Homo sapiens: one gene and its partner. The protein of the gene in region 2 interacts with the protein of the main gene of each other region in a biochemical or structural test. Each region holds a gene or a part of one and is shown on either strand. Other genes may lie near its edges.

The links. Proteins that work in one complex are often made in the same cells at the same time.
Region 1: the proteins of CCNT1 (region 2) and HTATSF1 form a complex in vitro, tested with the Homo sapiens proteins (one study listed by BioGRID).

What each region holds. Positions count from the first base shown.
Region 1 is NC_000023.11:136,507,592-136,510,218, reverse strand, and holds part of HTATSF1 (17S U2 SnRNP complex component HTATSF1), read right to left. Parts: intron 1,129-2,627; coding exon 1,039-1,128; intron 138-1,038; coding exon 1-137. UniProt on the Homo sapiens protein: Component of the 17S U2 SnRNP complex of the spliceosome, a large ribonucleoprotein complex that removes introns from transcribed pre-mRNAs.
Region 2 is NC_000012.12:48,703,208-48,706,707, reverse strand, and holds part of CCNT1 (cyclin-T1), read left to right. Parts: intron 1-811; coding exon 812-940; intron 941-3,500. UniProt on the Homo sapiens protein: Regulatory subunit of the cyclin-dependent kinase pair (CDK9/cyclin-T1) complex, also called positive transcription elongation factor B (P-TEFb), which facilitates the transition from abortive to productive elongation by phosphorylating the CTD (C-terminal domain) of the large subunit of RNA polymerase II (RNA Pol II).

The DNA of each region.
Region 1 (2,627 bases), on a different chromosome or scaffold from region 2:
TGATAATCTGTAGTCCCATCCCATGCCTGGGCAGTGATTTGACGGCCACCAAACCATCTTCCATCGAGAGTCTGAATACAATAATCAGCTTCCTCTGGATCCCGAAAGGACACAGAGGCCACACCATCTGGGTGCCTCTAGAAAGATAAGAAAGAAAAAAAAGGAATGAATGATAAGATTAAAAATAAAACACATACATTTCACAAAGTAGGTAAGTAGTAGTGTTCTCTCTGATACTCTGAAGTAAAAGACTTTATGTATGAAGTCTTTCTTCCATTTTATCCCAGCCAGTCACGTGCAGTCAGCTGCTTCTTTACCTCAATCTTACCTAGCAAGAACCAAGCACAATGTCCTTGGAAATGTTTCTGCTGACATCCCTGTCTAATGAGAAGCAGGACAGTATAATTGTTAAGAGTGTAAACTCTGAAGTCATATTGCCCTGGGATTAAATCCTGGCTCTGTCAGTTACCAAATGAACAACCTTGAGCCAGGTGTTCAATTTCTAAAGTGTTAGCTTCCTCATCTGTAAAATGGGTGTAATAGTGCTAACCTGCCTCAAAGGGTTTTGAGAAGTGAGATAACATGTAAAGTAGCTTGTAATACACAAGCAATAAATGGTGACTCTTAATTATTGGGTGTCAATTCTGGAAGTAAAAAGAGGATGAGAAGAGGAAATATACAGGAGAATATTGTCCCTGATTGTTCCAAATATGGAGGATGAGAATAATTCACAAAGAGGGGAAAATGTGACTAATAGGGAACCAGAGATCTCATACATTTTTCCTGTACCTTCTTTCACCTGATCATGTACTCTAGGGTAATGAAGACGGAAAATAAGCAAGGCATACCAAATCTATCAAATCCTTGGCTTGTAATCCACGTTCATCTCATTATTGCTAATAGATGATTATCACAAGATAGTGGACTACTATATAAAAACATTAATCTAAAATTCAGGGGTATACTAACATCTGAGAAGAACTTATAAGGTGGAGGAATTATTGCTTTAGGATCCATATGTCCAAGCCATGAACTTACATCAAAGAGAAGGAGTTTCCTAATTTGTCCAAACTTCGAACACTCTACTCGAAGGTCTTCTCTGATCTCATTCAGCACCAACGGATCATCCTGAAAAATATGCATGATTAAAATGGGTTTGCTCCCTTCTTTAACTATAAATCCTGAGAATCCAATTTCTTGTTCTGATAAATCAACAAACAGAAAAAGGTTTTGCTTAAGGTTGTGTTTTTCATTCTATACAATTTTTTAAAAACTCAAAATCAAATAAAATTATACTACTACATACACTGCTACTCCTATAGGTTTGCCCTGCTTTAAACAAAGGAAATGGACAAGTATGGCAGGCAGCAGAAGGGGCCTACAGTGGCAGAGCAGGAGAAGATGGTGGAAGTCCTGTGGCGCATATTCAGTCAGACTGCTAATTCCTATGCTCTGCATGGGCATCAACATCACACTGATAAGAGCCCTTTGCTTTGTGTTTTGGATACATTCCTATTTACAGAAATGTTGTAATGGAGAGAGAGAGAGCAATATATCCCTTTTATTGACTAAGTGTCCTAAGATTGATTTTTGTGCTTCCAAGATGCTATTTTAACTCACAGAATAAACATCGTAAGGATTACTGTTCGTCTTGTCTCCTACCACATTGTAACAGAACCATACAAATAAGGAGCTGTTATTAAGCATGCAATAAAATACATTCTTAGCTGTTGCTTTCTTGCAACTATGAGCCTATTAAGAACATTCAAGTACTGCTGTTTCTAGTAGCCTAGAGTTCGGGTGGAAATCTCCCTATAACAACAAAATGATTTAAGATTCCCTCTGGGAATTAACAAATCTCTCTCCAAGTACCAATGCATAAAAAGGGCTCAGGAAAAGCTACATTATCAGCTTGAATTTCAACTATATACAAATATAAATGAAGATATCCTATCTACAAATTTCTATTGAAGGTGACTTATACTTTCTAGGAAACATTTAAGCGCATCTATCTTTCTTACACGCTTTCATTTTTCTCATCAGCTAAAGAGGAACTATAGAGAATTGTGGCTTTCCTCCCATAAGGTTCTTCAAAAAGCAAAAATAAGCTGGCAGGGAGTTACTGAAATCTGATTTAAAATAAAAAATATAAAATCATACTCATTTGCATAAATCTGAGGCTTCTAAAACTACAGTTGGCAGAACTCTGGACTTCCCCACTTATAAAACTCAATTTTGGAGAAGCAGCCAATTTGCTTTATACAAAATGATCAGACCTGAGAAGAATAAGGAGTAGAGAATAAAAGTTATGGCTTTTGACATGTGTGTGTGTGTGTGGGGTTAGCTCCTATTAGAGTGAGTGCTTTCAGAAGGCAGGACCTTTGTTTTATTGAGTTTCAGATACCTCACAGAAAATAGCACAGACTTTTGTACAAAGCCAATATTCAAGAAAATCTTTTTAAGAATTTGATAAACTGTTTCTAATACCTCTCTTTTATTCACCAAGGAAAATCAGGATTATATCAAAAACAAAAAAAAAACTGTGTCAACATGTTTAACAACTTTTAAATTGAAGCGTGATTCCATGGTGGGGGTAGGCATCACCTCCATTTCTACACCAATGTCTC
Region 2 (3,500 bases):
GAAATACAGCTCTTAGCATTACTATCTTTGAGTCACTGAAATGTTCTTAATATTCAAGAAAAGTTCTATTTCCTGAAGTTTCCAAGATCACCAGGCTACATTTATGTCATATTGCTTTAATCTTTTATAAAGTTTGTTATCTACTTTTATATTGACTTCAATTTTTCCCTCTTAATGCTTTCTATAAATAATGTCTTGCATATAATGCCATGCTTTGTATTTTTGAAAGGTTCGATATGTATAAGTAATTGAGATATAATTCACGTACAATGAAATTCGTTTGTTTAAATTATATAGTTCACTGGTTTTTAGTATATGCGCAAAATTGTGCAACCATCAGCACAGTCTAATTGCAGAACATTTACATCACCCCAGAAAACTCCTCACCTATTAGCAGTTATTCCTATACTCCTCTCCCCGCAGCTCCTGGCAACCACTAAACTTTTTCTCTATATGGATTTGCGTATTCTGGACATTTCAGTTTACTCCTTAAAAAATGTATTGAGTGATTTGATACAAACTTAATAAAGAATCTCACTTTAAATAGAAAACTGTCTGCTTACATCTAGTAGCTTCTCCCATAGACAGCTTTTAATGACAGTTTGTCAAAGAATTGGTATTTGGAAGTGGAGATGGATTAATGGGTAGGAGAGGGGAAGATGGTAGAAGCGGGGGGGCGGGAAAGGGTAAAGAGGTGACAAAGTTGAGGCAAGCAAATAACTTGATTTGAGACTTAGCTCCTCTTTAGATCTACCTTACTCTATGAATGAATAAATTGATAATAAATATGATTTATTTTCTCTCCATTCAGTCTGTGGCTCCAGCAGCCTTGTTTCTAGCAGCTAAAGTGGAGGAGCAGCCCAAAAAATTGGAACATGTCATCAAGGTAGCACATACTTGTCTCCATCCTCAGGAATCCCTTCCTGATACTAGAAGTGAGGTAGGAGATTAATTACACATCTGTTTTTCTTAATTTTTTTCCTTTCTTTTTTTTTCCCTACTCCCAAGCATGCCTGGATCTTTATGTATTTCAATGCAACTTAATTTTATAACTTCGATTTATTGAAGTTTAGATTGGTGTTGTTAAAAGAATATTTTAGTGTTTGTGTTTTTCTTAACAGTAAGAAAATCAGGCCAGGTATGGTGGCTCACCATACCTGTAATCCTAGCACTTTGGGAGGGTAAGGTGGGAGAATCACTTTAGGCCAGAAGTTTAAGACCAACCTGGACAACATAGCAAGACCCTGTCTCTATATTTAAAAAAAAGAAAAAAAAAAGCCAGATGTGGTGGCTCATGCCTGTAATCCCAGCACTTTGGGAGGCTGAGGCAGGAGAATTGCTTGAGTCCAGTTCGAGACAAGCTCTGGCAACAAAGTGAGACCCCATTTCTACAAAAAAAGAAAAACAACAACAACAACAACAACAAAAAACAACTGGGCATGCTGGCTCACATCTTTAGTCCCAGCTACTTGGGAGACTGAGGTGGGAGGGTTGCTTGAGCATGGGATGTTGAGGCTGCAGTGAGCCATGATCACACCACTGCAGGCAACAGTGCCAGGACTCTGTCTGAAAAACAAAACACATAAATTTTATGGCGAAAGTTTTGTATTTGTTGCAGTAAAATTTGAAAATACAGAAAAATTCAAGAATAAAATATCTCTCAGATATATTCTAGACCAATGGTCCCAGACCTTTTTTGGCACCTGGGACTGGTTTCATGGGAGACAGTTTTTACATGGACAGGGGGTGGGGTTGGAGATGGTTTTGGGATGATTCAAGCACATTACATTTATTGTTCACTTTATTTCTATTATTGTTACATTGTTATACATAATGAAATAATTACGTAACTCACCATAACGTAGAATCAGTGGGAGCCCTGAGCATCTCTTTTTTTTTGAGACGGAATCTTGCTCTTGTCGCCAGGCTGGAGTGCAGTGGCGCAATCTCGGCTCACTGCAACCTCCACCTGCCGGTTTCAAGCGATTCTCCTGCCTCAGCCTCCTAAGTAGCTGGGACTACAGGTGTGCACCACCACACACAGCTAATTTTTGTATTTTTAGCAGAGACAGGGTTTCACCATGTTAGCCAGAATGGTCTCGATCTCTTGACCTTGTGATCTGCCCGCCTTGGCCTCCCACAGTGGTGGGATTACAGGCATGAGCCACTGTGCCCGGCCACCTTGAGGTGCTTTTCCTGCAACTAGATGGTCCCATCTGGGGGTGATGGGAGACAGTGACAGATCATCAGGCATTAGATTCTCATAAAGAGCAGCAAATTAGATCCCTTGCATGGGCAGTTCACCACAGGGTTCAAGTGCTCCTATAAGAATCTAATGCCACTGCTGATCAGACAAGAGGCAGTGCTCAGGTGGCAATATGTATGGTGGGGAGAGGCTATAAATACAGATGAAGCTTCACTCACTCGTACCTGCTGCTCAACTCCTGCTGTGTGGCCTAGTTCATAACAGGCCATGGACCCCCTGTTATATAGACAACTGAAGCACAGGTATACTAATGAACCACTGTTATTTGTGGCTTCTTTTCTATAGATAGCTATGTGTGCATGTATTTTGTCTCTGGTTTGTTTTCATTTGCTTACTATATCCCAAATATTTTCCCATCTGATGGATTCTCTACTTTTTAAAAATGTCTGGCTAGTATTTAATGATATATATGTGAATGTATGTATTTTTAACAATTCTCCATGAAGAAGTCTAGATAATTTCTAGCTTTTAAAATCACTATAAATGTTATGAAAAATATTCTTTTTTTTTTTTTTGGAGACAGGGTCTCATTCTGTTGCCCTGGCTGGAGTCCAGTAGTGTGATCATGGCTCACCGCGGCCTTGACCTTCCGGGCTCAGTGATCCCCCTGACCTCAGCATCCCGAGTAGCTGGGACTATAGGTGTGCGCCACCATGCCCAGCTAGTTTTTGTAGAGATGGGGTTTCACCATGTTGCCCAGGCTGCTCTCGACCTCCTGAGCTCAAGTAATTCGCCCACCTTGGCCTCCCAAGTGCTGGGATTACAGGCGTGAGCCACTGCACCTGGCTGAAAAATATTATTATACATTTTTATTATGGATCCTTAAATGAGTAGTTTCACTATTTTTTTTTTTTTTAACTTTTTTTTCGAGTTGGAGTTTTGCTCTTGTTGCCCAGGATTGAGTGCAATGGTGCAATCTCAGCCAACCGCAACCTCCCCCTCCTGGGTTCAAGCGATTTGCCTGCCTCAGCCTCCCGAGTAGCTGGGATTACAGGCATGTGCCACTACACCCGGCTAATTTTGTATTTTTAGTTGAAACGGGGTTTCTCCATGTTGGTCAGGCTGGTCTCGAACTCCTGACCTGAGGTTATCCACCTGCCTCAGCCTCCCAAAGTGCTGGGATTATAGGCGTGAGCCACCATGTCCAGCCAGCTTTGTTTTTTTTGAGACAGAATCTCGTTTTGTTGCCCAGGATAGAGTGCAGTGGCAAGATTGTAGCCAGGATGGTCTCGAT